Regions from separate parts of the Homo sapiens genome. Here region 1 is linked to region 2. Evidence: fine-mapped QTL for protein levels in blood plasma. Region 2 holds a variant in brackets. A gene starts in the other region. All regions are shown on their forward strands.

Evidence for each region. PIP is the posterior inclusion probability: the model's chance that the variant is causal. The UK Biobank Pharma Proteomics Project read protein levels with antibody pairs (Olink). The fine-mapping took linkage between variants from a reference panel, not from the people measured, so its PIPs are less certain.
Region 1: SERPIND1 starts here. The variant in region 2 is fine-mapped to the plasma level of the SERPIND1 protein (UK Biobank, PIP 0.94).

The regions. Positions count from the first base shown.
Region 1 is chr22:20,769,282-20,777,281 of GRCh38, forward strand. It overlaps SERPIND1 (serpin family D member 1), which reads left to right and starts at 4,832. Exons shown (of 5, transcript NM_000185.4): 1 at 4,832-4,864. The region is part of intron 19 of PI4KA (phosphatidylinositol 4-kinase alpha); the gene reads right to left.
Region 2 is chr16:71,610,478-71,619,001 of GRCh38, forward strand. LOC105371334 (a long non-coding RNA gene) reads right to left here. Exons shown (of 3, transcript XR_933717.2): 2 at 1,297-1,432. Among named protein-coding and RNA genes, the nearest start is that of MARVELD3, 11 kb to the right of the region's middle. The variant G/A (reference allele first, on the strand shown) is at 5,015.

The DNA of each region.
Region 1 (8,000 bases), not on the chromosome of region 2:
TCTCCCTGCTCTCTGACTTCTCCGAGCCTGCTGGCCACTGTCTTGGCTGAGACTGCTCTAGTCTCCAGAAAGGAGATCTGCTCACTCCTAAGAAGTATCAAGGTCAGGCCAGGTGTGGTGGCTCACGCCTGTAATCCCAGCACTTTGGGAGGCCAAGACAGGCAGATCAGGAGGTCAGGAGATCGAGATCAGCCTGGCTAACACGGTAAAACCCCATCTCTACTAAAAATACAAAAAATTAGCCAGGCGTGGTGGCACACACCTGTAGTCCCAGGTACTCGGGAGGCTGAAGCAGGAGAATCGCTTGAAACCAGGAGGCCGAGGTTGCAGTGAGCCAAGATTGCGCCACTGCACTGCAGCCTGGGCGACAGAGCGAGACGCCATTTCAAAAAAAAAAAAAAATCAAGGTCAGGGGGGAAGTGGGAAGACTGAAATAGATAAAGGATTCTAAAGAGATATAACAGTCAAATGCGACACATGAAACCCTGACCAGATAAAAATTAAAAACCCATAAAATACATGTTTGAAGTCATAGAGTAATCTGACTTGGACTAGACATGTGATATATGTGAGGCTTGTGATCTTCCCAGGAGTGATGGTAGCACAGCACAGGGCAGAGACCCGTCCATGGAAGAAACACTGGTGCTAGTGCCCAGGGCAGAAGTGAGTGATGTCTTTAAGTGGATATGGAAAAATATTAACTATTCTACCTAGGTTGTGGGTGTATGGATATTTAGTATTCAATTATTCCAATTTCTCTGTGTATGTATACATATTTTTTTTAGAGACAGGGTCTCACTCTGTCGACCACACTGGAGTAGGGGGTACAATCATAGCTCACTGTACATACTCAAGTGATCCTTCTGCCTCAGCCTCCTGAGCAGATGGGACTACAGGTGTGCAGCATCATGGCCCAGTTTTTTTTTTTTTGGTAGAGATGGGTTTTGCTAGCCGGGAGCAGTGGCTCATGCCTGTAATCCTAGCACTTTGGGAGGCTGAGGCGGGCAGATCATCTGAGGTCAGGAGTTCAAGACCAGCCTGGGCAACATGGTAAAACCCTGTCTCTACTAAAAACACAAAAATTAGCCAGGCATGATGGCAGGCGCCTGTAATCCCAGCTACTTGGGAGGCTGAGGCAGGAGAATCGCTTGAACCCAGGAGGCAGAGGTTGCAGCAAGCTAAGATTGAGCCACTGCACTCCAGCCTGGGCAACAGAGCAAAAACTCCGTCTCAAAAAAAAAAAAAAAAAAAGAGAGAGAGAGAGATCGGTTTTGCTATGTTGCCCAAGCTGGACACGGACACACACACACACACACACACACACACACACACACACACACACACACACACAAGCTGGACACAGAGACACACACAGTGACAGGGCAAAGGTTCCAAAATTTTAAACCTGGTAAATCTGGGTACGGGTATACAGGAGTTGTTCTACTACACTATTCTTTCAACTTTTTTGAAAGTTTGAAGTTATTTCAAAAGAAAAAGTTTTCCAAACTTTAGTGATCCTCCTGCCTCAGCCTCCCAAAGTGCTGGGATGATAGGCATGAGCCACCGTGCCTGACCCCTCTGTATATTTTTAGAATTTCATGTTAAAAGATGGAAAAGTCTGGATGAGGTAGTTCACGCCTGTCTTCCCAGCTCTTTGGGAGGCCAAGGTGGGAAGACTGCTTGAAGCCAGACGTTCAAGACCAACTTGGCCAACATAGTGAGACCCCGCTTTTTTCTAACTAAAAAAATTTTTTTCCAAGTTGGAAAAAATATCTAGCCATAAGACAAACCTTGAAACTGCAAAAGAACAATGGAGTATGTGTGACAGGAGGTACTGCTCTACAGTGGGGTTAAAGCCATACACAAGCTGTGGTGGCTCACGCCTGTAATCCCAGCACTTTGGGAGGCCGATGCGGGCGGATCATGAGGTTAGGAGTTCAAGACCAGCCTGGCCAGCATGGTGAAACCCGTCTCTACTAAAAATACAAAACATTAGCCAGACGTGGTGGTGGGCACCTGTAGTCCCAGCTACTAGGGAGGCTGAGGCAGGAGAATGGCGTGAACCCAGGAGGCGGAGCTTGCAGTGAGCTGAGATTGCGCCACTGCACTCCAGCCTGGGCGACAGAGCGAGACTCTGTCTCAAAAAAAAAAAAGCCATACACAAGCTGTTACCACTAAATGGGAAAATGACTGAAAAATGTCAATGTCAAGAGGGACTGAAATCAAATTTTTCCAATAGTGGGTTACATGATCAGAAATCCAAATAGACAGGAAATATGTTGGCTTTATTTATTTATTTATTTATTTATTTATTTATTTAGACAGAGTCTCACTCTGTCACCCAGGCTGGAGTACAGTGGCATGAACTCGGCTCACTGCAACCTTCACCTCCCAGGTTCAAGCGATTGTCCTGCCTCAGCCTCCCGAGTAGCTGGGACTACAGATGTGTGCCACCACACCCAGCTAATTTTTGTATTTTTAGTAGGGACGGGGTTTTACCATGTTGGTCAGGCTGGTCTTGAACTCCTGACCTCAAGTGATCCACCCGCCTTGGCCTCTCAAAGTGCTGGGATTACAGGTGTGAGCCACCACACCTGGCCGGTACTGGCTTTAAAAATAACAAAAGTAATACATACACATAGAAAAAGGTCAAACAAAGAAGTACATAGAATGAAAAATGAATGCTGTGTCCCCTCCCAGACCATTTCTGTGAATAAATATGTAATACCATGAAATGATGAGGACTAACATTTTCTGAATGCCAGGCACCACTCTATGTGCTTTCCACACATTCATTAACCTCATTTAATTTTCTCATTTAATTAATGAGATAAATTAATGTATCTCATTTAATTTTCACAACAACCTCATGCAGTAGGTGTAACTGTCACCCTCATTTCAGAGAGCAGAATACTGAGAGCTGGAGGCCAAGGGGCAATTTCAGCCAGGGTGGCTGGTGACGCCTCGGTGAAACCAAGAGCGAACAGTGAGAGCAGCGGCCACCTGCTGGTCTGCAGGGATGGTGTCCTGGGCAGAAAGAATAGCAAGTGCCAGGGCTGTGCTGGGGCCGGGCTTTGCATGTGTGAGAACAAGACAGAGAATGAGGGAGGTGGGCCCACGAGGAGTGTGGGCACAGACAGCAGCCTCTGCCTGTGGTGCCACGCTGAAGACTCAGTATTGTATGTGACAGATGAAGGCTCTAAGAAGACAGCTCTGACAAAAGCTAGAGTGCAAAATCAGACTCAGACACAACCACCGGTCTGTGTCCTGAACACAATGGACCTTTACACTCTGGAATTTCTCAAACGGAGCAATGCACAGACACCCCCATGGGCCCCTTGCACACCCGCAGATTCTCCTAGGAGTCACATTCTCTCTTCAGATAGACTCTGGGTGCCGACACTCCCAAACATGCTCTTGAGGAGCAGTCTCTGTGATAAGCTGATCTTCCAGACAATCCAGAATATTCTTAAAACTTTTTAGATCATAAAATTTAAAACACAAATTAAAAAACAAATTATCATAAGGCCGGGCACAGTGACTCATGCCTGTAATCCCAGCACTTTGCAAGGCTGAAGCAGGAGGATCACTTGAGCCCAAGAGTTCAAGACCAGCCTAGGCAACATAGTGAGACCCTGTCTCTACAAAAAAGTCAAAAGTTAGCTAGACATGGTGGTGTGCACCTGTATTCCCAGCTACTTGCAGGGCTGAGGTGAGGAGGATTGCTTCAGCTCGGGAGGTTGAGGCTGCAGTGAGCCAAGATCACGCCACTGCACTCCAGCCTGGGTAACAGAGTGAGACCCTGTCTCAAAAAACACATAGGGCCAGGCGTGGTGGCTCACGCATGTAATCCCAGCACTTTGGGAGGCCGAGACGGGAGGATCACTTCACTCCAGGAGTTCAACACCAGCCTGGCCAACATAGTGAAACCCCGTCTCTACTAAAAATACAAAAAATTAGTTGGACATGGTGGTGTGCGCCTGTAATCTCAGCCACTCAGGAGGCTGAGGCAGGAGAACGCTTGAACTTGGGAGACAGAGGTTGCAGTGAGCTGAGATCGCACCACTGCACTCCAGCATGGGCAGCAGCGCGAAACTCTGTCTCAAAACAAACAAACAAACAAACAAACACCCATAAACACAAAATGTATCACAGCCTCAGAGATCCCCACGAATGCCTAAGTGGCCCTGAATTTGGGAGGCACTGCTCAGTAATAGTCCTATCTGTCCCACAACAGACAGGAGTGCTGGGCTGCACCTACTGGCAACAAACACAGCAACCCTTGACTGAAGAAAGGTCCATGCCACAATCCCCTTATTCTGTAAGCCACTAATTTTGTCCTCTCTCCTCCACCTTTCACTGAGGAACGAGCTCTTGGAAGGACAGGGACACCCGCCTAGTAGCTGAGCCAGCCACATCAGTCCTGGAGAGCAGGTGGAGGGCAGATGCTGTGATCATCCCAGAAGAGAGGACACAGTTGGAGGCAGATGCATGGTCTCTACTTTCAGCTACCCTCAATGCAGCCTGGTCCCCAGAGGCCTGAAGAGCGCCTTGTTTATGTGGTGACCTCAAGAGGGGCTGCTCCTGCACCAAGGCTATGTGTGCATGCTAACACAGTAACCGTCATATACTCAAAGTGTCAGCTCTAAGAACTGGAGATGAGGAGCTGCAAGCCACTCTACAGTTATCAAAGGCACAGCTGAGGGGGTTTGTGCTGACCAAGCTGGTTGCCTGGTGTTTGGATTGGGACTTATTTACTTTGGAAAATATGCAGCAACAGCCCAGCACCAAAGTTCACATCAAAATCCCACTGATGACCTTGGCTGCTTTCATCTCTGAAGCGCCACTTCTCAGAAACACAGAGGTAAGTTGGGTTTCTAATGTTTCTGCTGATTATAAATTATTTTTGGTGTTTACGGATAGGCAACTGGTTCATTTTTCTAGCAAACTAAGAATTCAGAAGCTTTCTACACTGTTTTAGAAGTGGGAAATGGTTTCATTTTTCAGTGTGCCTATTATAAAATTGTGTCAGTTCCATTGTTGGGAGAGTTGACAAACTTAGAATAGGAGCTGTGGAATAGATGAAAATATTGTACTTATATTAAATTAATCGAATTGGATAACTGTCCTGTGATTATGTATGAGAATATCCTTGCTCTTGGGTATTTTCCCTGAAGTATTAGTATTAAAGGTTAGAGGGGCCGGGTGCAGTGGCTCACGCCTGTAATCCCAACACTTTGGGAGGCCGAGGCGGGTGGATCACGAGGTCAGGAGTTCAAGACCAGCCTGACCAACATGGTGAAGCCAAGTCTCTACTAAAAATACAAAAATTAGCTGGGCGTGGTGGCACGCGCCTGTAATCCCAGCTACTCAGGAGGCTGAGGCAGGAGAATCGCTTAAACCCGGGAGGCAGAGGTTGCAGTGAGCGGAGATCGTGCCACTGCACTCCAGCCTGGACAACAGAGTTAGACTCCGTCAAAAAAAAAAAAAAAAAGAAGAAAAAAGAAAAAATGTTAGAGGAACAAGATATAGGAGACCTACTCTCAAATGGTCTAGAAGAAAAAATGTGTATGTGCATGCCTGTGAGAACACACACGTACGTACACACACACACAGATAATGACAGGGCAAAGGTTCCAAAATTTTAAACCTGGTAAATCTCGGTACGGGTATACAGGAGTTGTTCTACTACACTATTCTTTCAACATTTTTGGAAGTTTGAACTTACTTCAAAATAAAAAGTTTTCCAAACTTTAGGCAGTTACTTCTCTCCCATTCTGCCTGCTCTGTTGGGCCTGGAGACCATACACCAGGAGGGATGACGGTTTATCAAGTGTTATGCTCTGATGCGTGACTGAAAAGGCCAACCCAGCTCTGGCAATTAGCAAGAAAGCACAATATGAAGTTCCCAGGAAAAAAAAAAAGCAAAACAAACTTTTGAATGATTTATCTTTAAAATATATTGTTTCTCTTCAAACAGTAATCTGGATTTAATCACAACCTAGTGATAGTTTTTAAACGTCTTCTACAATGTTTGTTATACTAAATAGCAAAACATCAGGAAGATTTACCTTCAGATCTTTAATTTCAATCCATAAAAGATATCAGAGATATTTTCTCCTTCCTCTGGTAAGGGAATGACGAAAACTATTTTTGGCTTTTTATCAGATAATGTGGGAACAGGGTATAAGAAGTTTCCAAATATAACTTCTGAATACCGGGATAAAACATGCATGTCTTTACTCTGCCACTCTATCTGGCCTCAGATACGTTTTCCTGAATGCTTATTTATTCAAGTTGGTTTTTGTTTTGTTCTTTAACCTTATTTTTATCTGAGAAGAAAACATTTTCCCCCTTTGTTCCTTCTTCTTTTGGCTTTCTTTTTTAAAATAGAGATGAGGTCTTGCTATGTTGCTCCAGCTGGTCTTGAACTCCTGGGCTCAAGCGATCCTCCTGCCTTGGCCTCCCAAGATGCTAAGATTACAGGTGTGAGCCCCTATGCCTGGTCTTCTTCTTCTTGATCTTAGCCAAAAGGCCAAGAAGTGATAAGAGGAGGACACTTGAAGTGTAGTTGGGCAAGGAGCCTTCTACCAGCTGCTTACTTTCTTTGTTCCTGACTTTTAAAAGTGTGTTGCTATTGATACACAGTCTCCTGATATGTAAAATGCTGGGAGGATGAAGCTAAGTTACTCAAAGTGCCATTCAGAAACTGGGCCCAGTTCTATTTGCAGCTACATACATTAGAAATCATTTCTAGAGGCTGAGCATGGTAACTCATACCTGTAATTCCAGCACTTTGGGAGGCCAAGGCAGGAGAATTGCCTGAGCTCAGGAGTTTGAGACCTGTCTGGGCAACATGGTAAAACCCCATCTTTACCAAAAACACAAAAAATTAACTGGGTTTGGTGGCACACACCTGTGGTCCCAGCTACTTCAAAAGGCTGAGGTGGGAGGGTCTCTTGAGCCTGAGAGGAACAGGTGGCAGTGAACCAATATTGTGCCACTGCACTCCAGCCTGGGTGACAGAGTGAGACCCCGCCGTCTCAAAATAAAAATAAAAAGAAATCGTTTCTAGAAACTGTTTTCCCGTGTGTAAACTAGTGGCACTGCAGCCTGAGGCAGGTGCTGAGATGGGGACCTGGAAAAGGCAACAGGCATTTTGAGTCAGAAACAATGTGACTTTCCTGCTCCAAAATGTGCAATTCAAAAGTCTTTCTTAGTTGTGACTAAAACAAACTTTGAACTTACTATTTCAACAGTATTATAAGGGGAAGACCCAAGGAATGGGACTGGCACTGGGAAAACAGCTAGGAAGCTGCTCTGCACGGCCAGGGAGTCTGGAAGCATCCTGGTACTCCAGAGCGAACAAGGCTGAGCGCTTGATGTGGGGCTTAGAGGCTTAACCAACTTGGTTCGAATCTAGCCACTGCCACTTATTAGTGACAGTGACGAAAGGCTCAGTCTCCTGATATATAAAATGTTGGGAGGATGAAACTAAGTTACACGAAGTGCCTTATACAGCGTGTCAGGCATCCAACAGAGGCCATTATCAACATTAACCACACTGACAGCATTTCAAGCAGAGTATCCGAACAGTTACCCCATCTTCAGGCCTACTGAGTTCAAATATTTGCTTAACAAGAGCAGCCAGTAACTCTTACCTGGCCTCAACTGGCAGCAGATATTCTGGGCCTCAAATATCTATCTAATAGGAAATGGTCACAGACACAAAATAAGCTTAACAAAAGGCAGTTTTTTTTTGTTTTTTTTTTGTTTTCTGTTTTTTGAGATAAGGACTCACTCTATCCCCCAGGTTGGAGTGCAGTAGTGGCGTGATCACGGCTCACTGCAGACTCAAGTGATCCTCCTACTTCAGCCTCTCAAGTAGATGGGACCACAGGCGTGTGCCATCACACCAGGCTAATTATTTTTCTTTTCTTTTTTTTTTTTTTGAGACGGAGTTTCGCTCTTTTTGCCCAGGCTGGAGTGCAATGGTGCGA
Region 2 (8,524 bases):
CCCAAAGACTTTTGGTTACTTCTGCCTCCATACCCTGCCCACATCTCATGCTCATCTTTTTCTTCCCAGTGTCACAAAGAATTTACTTAGCTGCCTCTCTCATGAGGCTGTGAGCTCTCAGCCAGCACGGCTATCTTATTTCTCTTCCTTGCATCACAGTGGCATCCACAGTGCCTGATAAGCGGTAGCAATGCAATAACAATAGCTAATACAGGCCAGGCGCGGGGGCTCACACCTGTCATCCCAGGACTTTGGAGGCTGAGGCAGGAGGATGGCTTGAACCCAGGAGTTCAAGACCAGCCTGGGCAATATAGTAAGACCCCTGTCTCTAAAAAAAATTTTAAATAAAATAAAAGAATAGCTAATACATGTGTAGTTTAAATATATGTTAGGCACTGCTCCAGTGTGTTATGCATATTACTTATTTAAGCCTATGAAGTAGGTACAATTATCCCCATTTTGCAAGCGAGAGGGTTGCATTTTGGGCAGAGGGAGGGTGAGTGATTTCCCAAGCTCAGTCTCACCTGTGTATTAGGCGAAGTTCAGGAAATAGTGAACCTATTTAGTGAACCTAAATAGTGAACTCCAGGCGTTGTTTCACAGCTGGATGAGAGAACTCTGGTCACCCAGGCTGAGTCGGGGGAGGGGATTCTCGAAACTGAGGAAGACGGCATCCTATGGGCTCCCGCGCCTCCCAGCCTGAGCCTGTGCTGCCCCCTGCTGGCCAGCTCTGGGCCCCCTGCAGGCTCCCTTTCCCACCTAGAGCGCCTGCGTAGGAACTAACCCAGCCAGAAGTCCCCTCTGCCACCAGAGCTTGAGTCTAGGGTCTGACAGCAAGCACAGGATGTGCTGAGTGGGGAAGAGAATCAAAAGATCTCGCGGGGAATGTGCAAGGATTTCCCCCTTGATCCACATACCTAAGGACTGCCTCCCTCATAAGTGAAGGCTGAAAGAAACCATTCAAAGAAACCAAATGGGAAAAGTCAGCTCTGTCCCCAAATGCCATTGCCTGTACCCAAAATCAATAGAAATGTTTATTTGTTTAAAGAAAAACTTAGGTAAATATTTGGATTATTCTTACATTAGATTCTCCTTTAGGATGGAATATTGAGTGCTAAATTAACACACCGGTTCTTAATTAGGGTGCCTGATGGAGCTATTCGAAAACACAGATGCCCGGGCTCTGTTCCCAGCCTGCTGAATCAGAATCACCGGGAGGCGCTACTTCTTCTCCGGACTAGCCTCAAACCCAGATTTTCCCAAACCCCAAAGCTCCCAGACCGTTTAATATCTCACCTTTCCAGCTGGAGGAAAACCAATGCCTTTCCACTTGAACTTCAGTGAAAAACTTCATTGTCTAGAGAATACTCCTCCAGGGTATCTGACTCTAGTCTTTCATTGACTTTGAGCTATTTTACAAAATAGCTAATTGCTGGCAATGCAAAAAAAAAATTATTGTTTATAAACATGCAAATTATGTTCTGTCTAGTAGAAAGTCAATTGATTTTGCTTACCCTCTGTAAAAAAAAAAATCCGTTTGCCTCCATTTGCACATTTATTTCATTATTCCTGGTCTACAAATGGGTCTATTTTTTGAACCTATTGTAATATCTGCTTGATTTCTTCAATGATCATTGAGTTAAAGAAAATCTTGAACATGTTCATTTTATATCTATGTGAGAGTTTCTTTCTTTTTTTCTTTTTTTTTTTTTTTTTTGAGATGGGAGTCTCGCTCTCTCTCCCAGGCTGCGGTGCAGTGGCCCGATCTCGGCTCACTGCAACCTCCGCCTCCCGGGTTCAAGTGATTCTCCTACCTCAGCCTCCTGAGTAGCTGGGATTACAGGCGCACGCCACCAAACCCGGCTAATTTTTGTATTTTTAGTAGAGACAGGGTTTCACAACGTTGGCCAGGCTGGTCTCGAACTCCTGACCTCAAGCAATCTGCCTGTCTCGGCCTCTCAAAGTGCTGGGATTACAGGCTTGAGCCACCACATCCGGGCGAGAGTTTCTTTTTTGGAAAATTATTTTTAATATACCAGTGACAAGTACTTTCCTATTCTCTACTCTTTGGTCATCTGCCACTTACACTCTTTGCTTTGGTTAAAGTTTACTCGGGGGATTTTCTCAGAAAATAACTCCCTTTTTGTAACTTTCCACTGTATGCATAATGTCTGTCCGAAGATTCCTGGAAGAACAGCAGAATAACCAAAAGGTGTTATATTTTTAATTAAGGCAAAAGAGAGGTCAGAAGATTGGTTCCTAAACTTCTCTTCCACAAATAAAATAAACTCATCAGATGTTCACTAGGCTTTAACTCTCAACTACCTTACTTACTCCGTCCTTACTTGTGTGGTTGATTAATTTATCAAAAATTACACATATTAGAGACAGAGTCTCACTCTGTTGCTCAGGCTGGAGTGCAGTGGCATGATCTCGGCTCACTGCAACCTCCACCTACCTGGTTCAAGAGATTCTCCTGCCCCAGCCTCCCAAGTAGGTGGGATTACAGGCATGCACCACCACACCCAGTGGATTGTTTTACTTTTACTGTACCTAATGATGTTATAAGTTGCAACAGAAAATAAAAGATCCCTGTCATCTCCTTGAGTACATAGAATTAATTTGTAAGAACTAATGTTTCCAAGCATGGTGGTTCACTCCTATAATCTCAGCAGTTTGGGAGGCTGAAGCAGGAGTAACGCTTGAGCCCAGGAGTTTCAGACCAGCCTGGGCAACATAGCAAGACCCTATCTCTCTCTACAAAAAAAAAAGAAAAGAAAAGAAAAGAAAAGAAAAAACTTAGCCAGACATGGTGGCATATGCCTGTAGTCCCAGCTACTCAGGAGGCTGAGGCGGGAGAATCGCTTGGGCCCAGGAGGCCAAGGCTACAGTGAGCCATGATTGTGCCACTACACACCAGCCTTGGTGACAGAGCAAGATCTTGTTATTTACCCAATGATTATTTATTGAGCATCTACCAGGTGCCAGGCATAATGGCAAAGGCATAGTCTATGGGAGCTGACAGTCCAGAGAGAGGTGCAGACACTACACAAATACAGTCATGCGTTGCTTAATGTCAGGGGTATGTTCTGAGAAATGCATCATTTGGTGATTTTGTCATCGTGTGAACATCATAGAGTGTATTTATACACAGAGTGTACCTACTTGGTATAGCCTACTAAACGCACCTAGGCTATATGGTATGGCCTATTGCTCCTAGACTGCAAATCTGTATAGCATGTTATTGTACTGAATTTTTTTTTTTTTTTTTTTTGAGGCAGAGTCTCGCTCTGTCACCCAGGCTGGAGTGCAGTGGTGCCATCTCAGCTCACTGCAACCTCTGTCTCCTGGGTTCAAGTGATTCTTCTGCCTCAGCCTTCTGAGTAGCTGGGGACTAAAGTCGTGGGCCACCATACCCGGCTAATTTTTGCATTTTTTTTTCTTTTTTTTTTTTTAGTAGAGATGGGGTTTCACTATGTTGGCCAGGCTGGTCTTAAACTCCTGACTTCAAATGATCCACCCACCTCAGTCTCCCAAAGTGCTGGGATTACAGGCTTGAGCCACCACACCCGGCCAATTAAATGTATACTTTCAAATTTTGAGAACAGCAGATGAAATGCATGTTTTGAGCCAAAATTGCAACAATTCAAAAAAGGACAGGCCAGTATGAGCTGAAGTCGTGGGAAATATTCTGGTTATCTTTTGCTGAGTATCAAATCACTCCCAAACTTAGAGGTATAAGACAACCATTTATTATGCTCATGGATTCTGTGGGTCGGGAATTTGGAAAGGGCACAGTAGGAAGGGCTTGTCTCTGTGCCACAATGTCTAGGGTCTGAGCAGAGAGACCCAAAGGCTGGGGGTCACCTGATGGCTGGGGCTGGAAGCTTCGAGAGCTCATTCACTAATGTCTCGAGACTGATGCTGGCTGTAGACTAAGATCTTAGCTAGAGACAACGAAACACCTATACATGGCCTTTTTATGTCACCTGGGATTCCTTACATTATTGTGACTGGGTTCCAAGGTAGAGCAGCCTCAGAGAGAGCCAGGTAGAAGCTGTATCACCTTTGTTGATGAGCCCAAAAAATCACTCAGCATCACTTCCACTGCATTCTATTCAGGACCAGCTTAATGGGCGTGTGACCTGTGTGGTCACACAGAGCCCCATGCTTGGTTTAATGCTCTGCTCTCACCCCCTGGAAATTCGTAATAATATTTGATGGCCAGGCACAGTGACTCACACCTGTAATCCCAGCACTTTGGGAGGCTGAGGCAGGAGGATCGCTTGAGGCCAGGAGTTCAAGATCAGTCTGGGAAACATGGCAAGATCTCATCTCCACAAAAGAAACTGAAAAAAAAATTAGCCAGCTATGATGATTATGCACACCTGTAATCGCAGCTACTCAGAAGGCTGAAGTGGGAGGATCACTTGAGCCCAGGAGTTTGAGGCTACAGTGAGCTGTGATCACACCACTGCACTCCAGCCTGAGCAACATAGCAAGACCCTGTCTCAAAACAAATAACTAAATAAATGTTTGTACAAGGGCCCCGTATTTTCATTTGACTGGGACCCACAAATGATGTAGCCGGTTTTGATTCTATTTGTCCAGGCAGTCACAAGGGCCTGCGCAGGCTCACAGGGTGGGGACACTGACTTCCCCTCTAGATGGGGCAGTAGCAAGGTTCTGGAAAAGCATGTGAAACTGGAAATATTGGTGTGGCCTTTTTTTTTTTTTTTTTGAGATGGAGTTTCGCTCTTGTTGCCCAGGCTGGAGTGCAATGGCACGATCTCGGCTCACTGCAACCTCCGCCTCCCGGGTTCAAGCAGATTCTCCTGCCTCAGCCTCCCAGGTAGCTGGGATTACAGGCATGTGTCACCATGCCCAGCTAATTTTGCATTTTTAGTAGAGACGGGATTTCTCCATGTTGGTCAGCCTGGTCTCCAACTCCTGACCTCAGGTGATCTGCCCGCCTCGGCCTGCCAAAGTGCTGGGATTACAGGAGTGAGCCACC[G/A]CGCCCAGCTGGCGTGGCCTTTCTCAGAAAGTACAATCTGCCACAGAGGGTTTGTAGAGAATTTAAGATGTAGCCTGGACCTGTAAAAGACTTTTAAGTGTGTAAATTTCTCAGGCTCCCAGGAAGATATCCTCAGGTCCCACCTGTTTCAACAAACCCTCTTAAAGAGCCCACAGCTGATATTTATCTATCCCCATATCTATTCAGCAAATCCTGGTTGAGTGCATTTGGGGACAGGGGAGCATTTACAGGTGATTTGGAGATGTTGGCTTGGGGTTCACAGTGCTGGTGTCAGTAAAAGGAGAAAAAAAGCCTGGGCATGGTGGCTCATGCCTGTAATCCCAGCACTTTTTGGGAGGCTGAGGCAGGCAGACCACGAGGTCAAGAGATCGAGACCATGCTGGCCAACATGGTAAAACCCTGTCTCTACTAAAAATACAAAAATTAGCTGGGCGTAGTGGCGTGCGCCTGTAGTCCCAGCTACTCAGGAAGCTGAGGCAGGAGAATCACTTGAACCAGGGAGAAGGAGGTTGCAGTGAGCCAAGATCGTGCCACTGCACTCCAGCCTGGCAACAGAGCAAGACTTCATCTCAAAGAAAAAAAAAAGAGAGAAAAAAAGCTACAGGGCAAAGCACAAAAACCCTATAAACAAAGTGTCAGGATGTTAAAGAGAGCCAAAGACCACTTTTAGCTGGAGGAATTTGAGCCGGCTTCCTGGAGACATGGCCCCGGGTGGCTCCCCTCCATTCATTCAAGAGTCACTTATTCATTGAACAAGTGTCTTCCGTGCCATTGGAGTTCGAGGCCCTGGGGATTTATCAGGGAGCAGGATATGTCCCCGCTTTCATGCAGCCTACTCTACAAGGTACAGTCAAATAACAGACACATTAAAAAATAAACATAGAGGCCCAGTATAGTGGCTCACGCCTGTAATCCCAACGCTTTGAGAGGCCAAGGCAGGCAGGTCACCTGAGGTCAGGAGTTCGAAACCAGCCTGGCCAACATAGTGAAACCCCGCCTCTACTAAAAATACAAAAATTAGCCAGGCGTGGTGGCACATGCCTGTAGTCCCAGCTACTCGGGAGGCTGAGGCAGGAGAATCACTTGAATCCAGGAGGTGGAGGTTGCAATGAGCCGAGATCGCACCACTGCACTCCAGCCTGGGCAACAAGAGCGAAGACTCCCTCTCAAAAAATAATAATAATAAAGTTGTGATTTCTTTAAAGTATTTTGACTGCTTGTGAGCAGACTTTTAGGCAATTAAGAGAAAAATATCCTTAGACTAAGTGGATAAAATTTTTTCTCAAATATTTAAACATAGGCAAAACATAACAAGCTTAAAGACTGTACTTTTCAAATGTTCTACAAGTGGACATGTATTATTATTGTTATTATCATTATTTTGAGACAGGGTCTCACTCCATTGCCCAGGCTGGAGTGCAGGGGTGCCATCACAGCTCACTATAGCCTTGACCTCCTGGGCCCAAGCGATCCTCTCACCTCAACCTCCCAAGTATCTGGGACTAGAGGTGTGCACCACCACACCCAGCTAATTTTTGTATTTTTTGTAGAGACAGGGGTCTCCCTATGCTGCCCAGGCTGGTTTTGAACTCCTTGGCTCAAGCAATCCTCCCGCCTCAGCCTCCCAAAGTGCTGGGATTACAAGTGTGAGCCACCATGCCTAGCCTGTGTATTATTTTTATAATCAGAAAAAAATAGTTCTTAAAATCACTGGGAAGGTGATTTTAATCACATTTCCACCGATGTACAGAGTGCAAGAGCTATGGGGACATGGCTACCTCTGCCTAGATTTTAAAGGACATTTAGTTTAGGAGAAAAACCAAAAGTTTGGTAATACATGCTGTTGATGAACTTGTGGGGAAATAAACGCTCTCATGTATAACTAATGGGAATACAAACCTATATAATTCCTATGAAGGACATTTGGCAATCTGTCAAAAGTTTAATGTCTTGGGAGGCTGAGGTGGGTGGATAACTTGAGGTCAGGAGTTCAAGACCAGCCTGGCCAACATGGCAAAACCCTGTCTCTACTAAAAATACAAAAATTAGCCAGGTATGGTGGTGGGTGCCTGTAGTCCCAGCTACTTGGGAGGCTGAGGCAGGAGAATCACTTGAACCCAGGAGGTGGAGGTTGCAGTGAGCCGAGATCATGGCACTGATCATGGCACTGCACTCCAACCTGGGCGACAGAGTGAGACTCAGTCTCAGAAAAAAAAAAAAAAAAAAAAAAAGATTAATGTCTAGGTCACTTTTTAGACTGGTTCCTTCACCACTTCATTAAAGACTCACCCCATTCCAAGCCCTGCCATGATCACCATTGAGGCTACAGATACAATATACCAGGCTCTTTTTTTTGTTTTTGAGACAGAGTTTTGCTGTGTCTCCCAGTCTGGAGGGAAATGGCGTGATCTCAGCTCACTGCAACCTCTGCCTCCCAGGTTCAAGTGATTCTCCCACCTTTGGATGGCTAGGTCACTTTTTAGACATTAAACTTTTGGAGATATACCCCACAGATGTACATGTGAGAATGCAAAATAACACACAAGGTCATTCATACAGCTTTATAGTAGCAAAAGATTAGAAATAATCATACAGCTTTATAGTAGCAAAAGATTAGAAATAATCCAAATGTCTATCAAGAGAGCACTAATTAAATCAGTTATGATACAGTCATACAGCAGGGCACTATGCAGCTTGAAAAAAAGAATGAGGACCTTTTTTATTTACCAATATGAAAAGATCTTCAAGATAATTACATGAAAAAAGCAAGTCACAGAACAGAGAACACTATGCTACCTTTCGTGTGAATCGGAAAGAAGGGTATATAGATTTGATCTGCTTATATTTATGTGAATCAAACCCTAGAACAATTCACAAGAAAATCATTGCAATGATTGTTTGTTGAGGGGGGCTCTGGATCCCCTTTTCCTGCTGATATACCCATCCCCCAGCCACGATGACACTGACTGACAGCAAGTCACAGCTGTTCCTTCTCTGGGGAATTGCCTGCCACCCAAAAGAGGGCCACCTGACTTGGAAAGGGTATGCTATGGTCTGAACATCGGTGTTCCCCAAAATTCATATGTTGGAACCCAATACCCAATGTGACAGTATCAAGAGACAGAGCCTCGGGGAAAGTGATGAGGTCATAAGGGCTCTGCCTTCATGAATGGAATTCGTGCTCTTATAAAAGAGGTTGAAGGGAGCTTCCTTGCTCCTTTTACCATGTGAGGACACTTAGAAGGCATCATCTATGAGGAACAGGCCTTCATCAGACACCAAATCTGCTAGCATCTTGATCTTGGACTTCCTGGTCTCCAGAATTAATGAGAAATAAATTTCTATCATTTACAAATTATTCAGTCTATGGTATTTTGTTATAGCAGCCCAAATGGACTGAACAGAAATTGGTAGGAGAAGTGGGGTGCTGCTGTAACAAATACCTAAAAATGTGGGAGCAGCTTTGGAACTAGGTAATGGCCAGAGGTT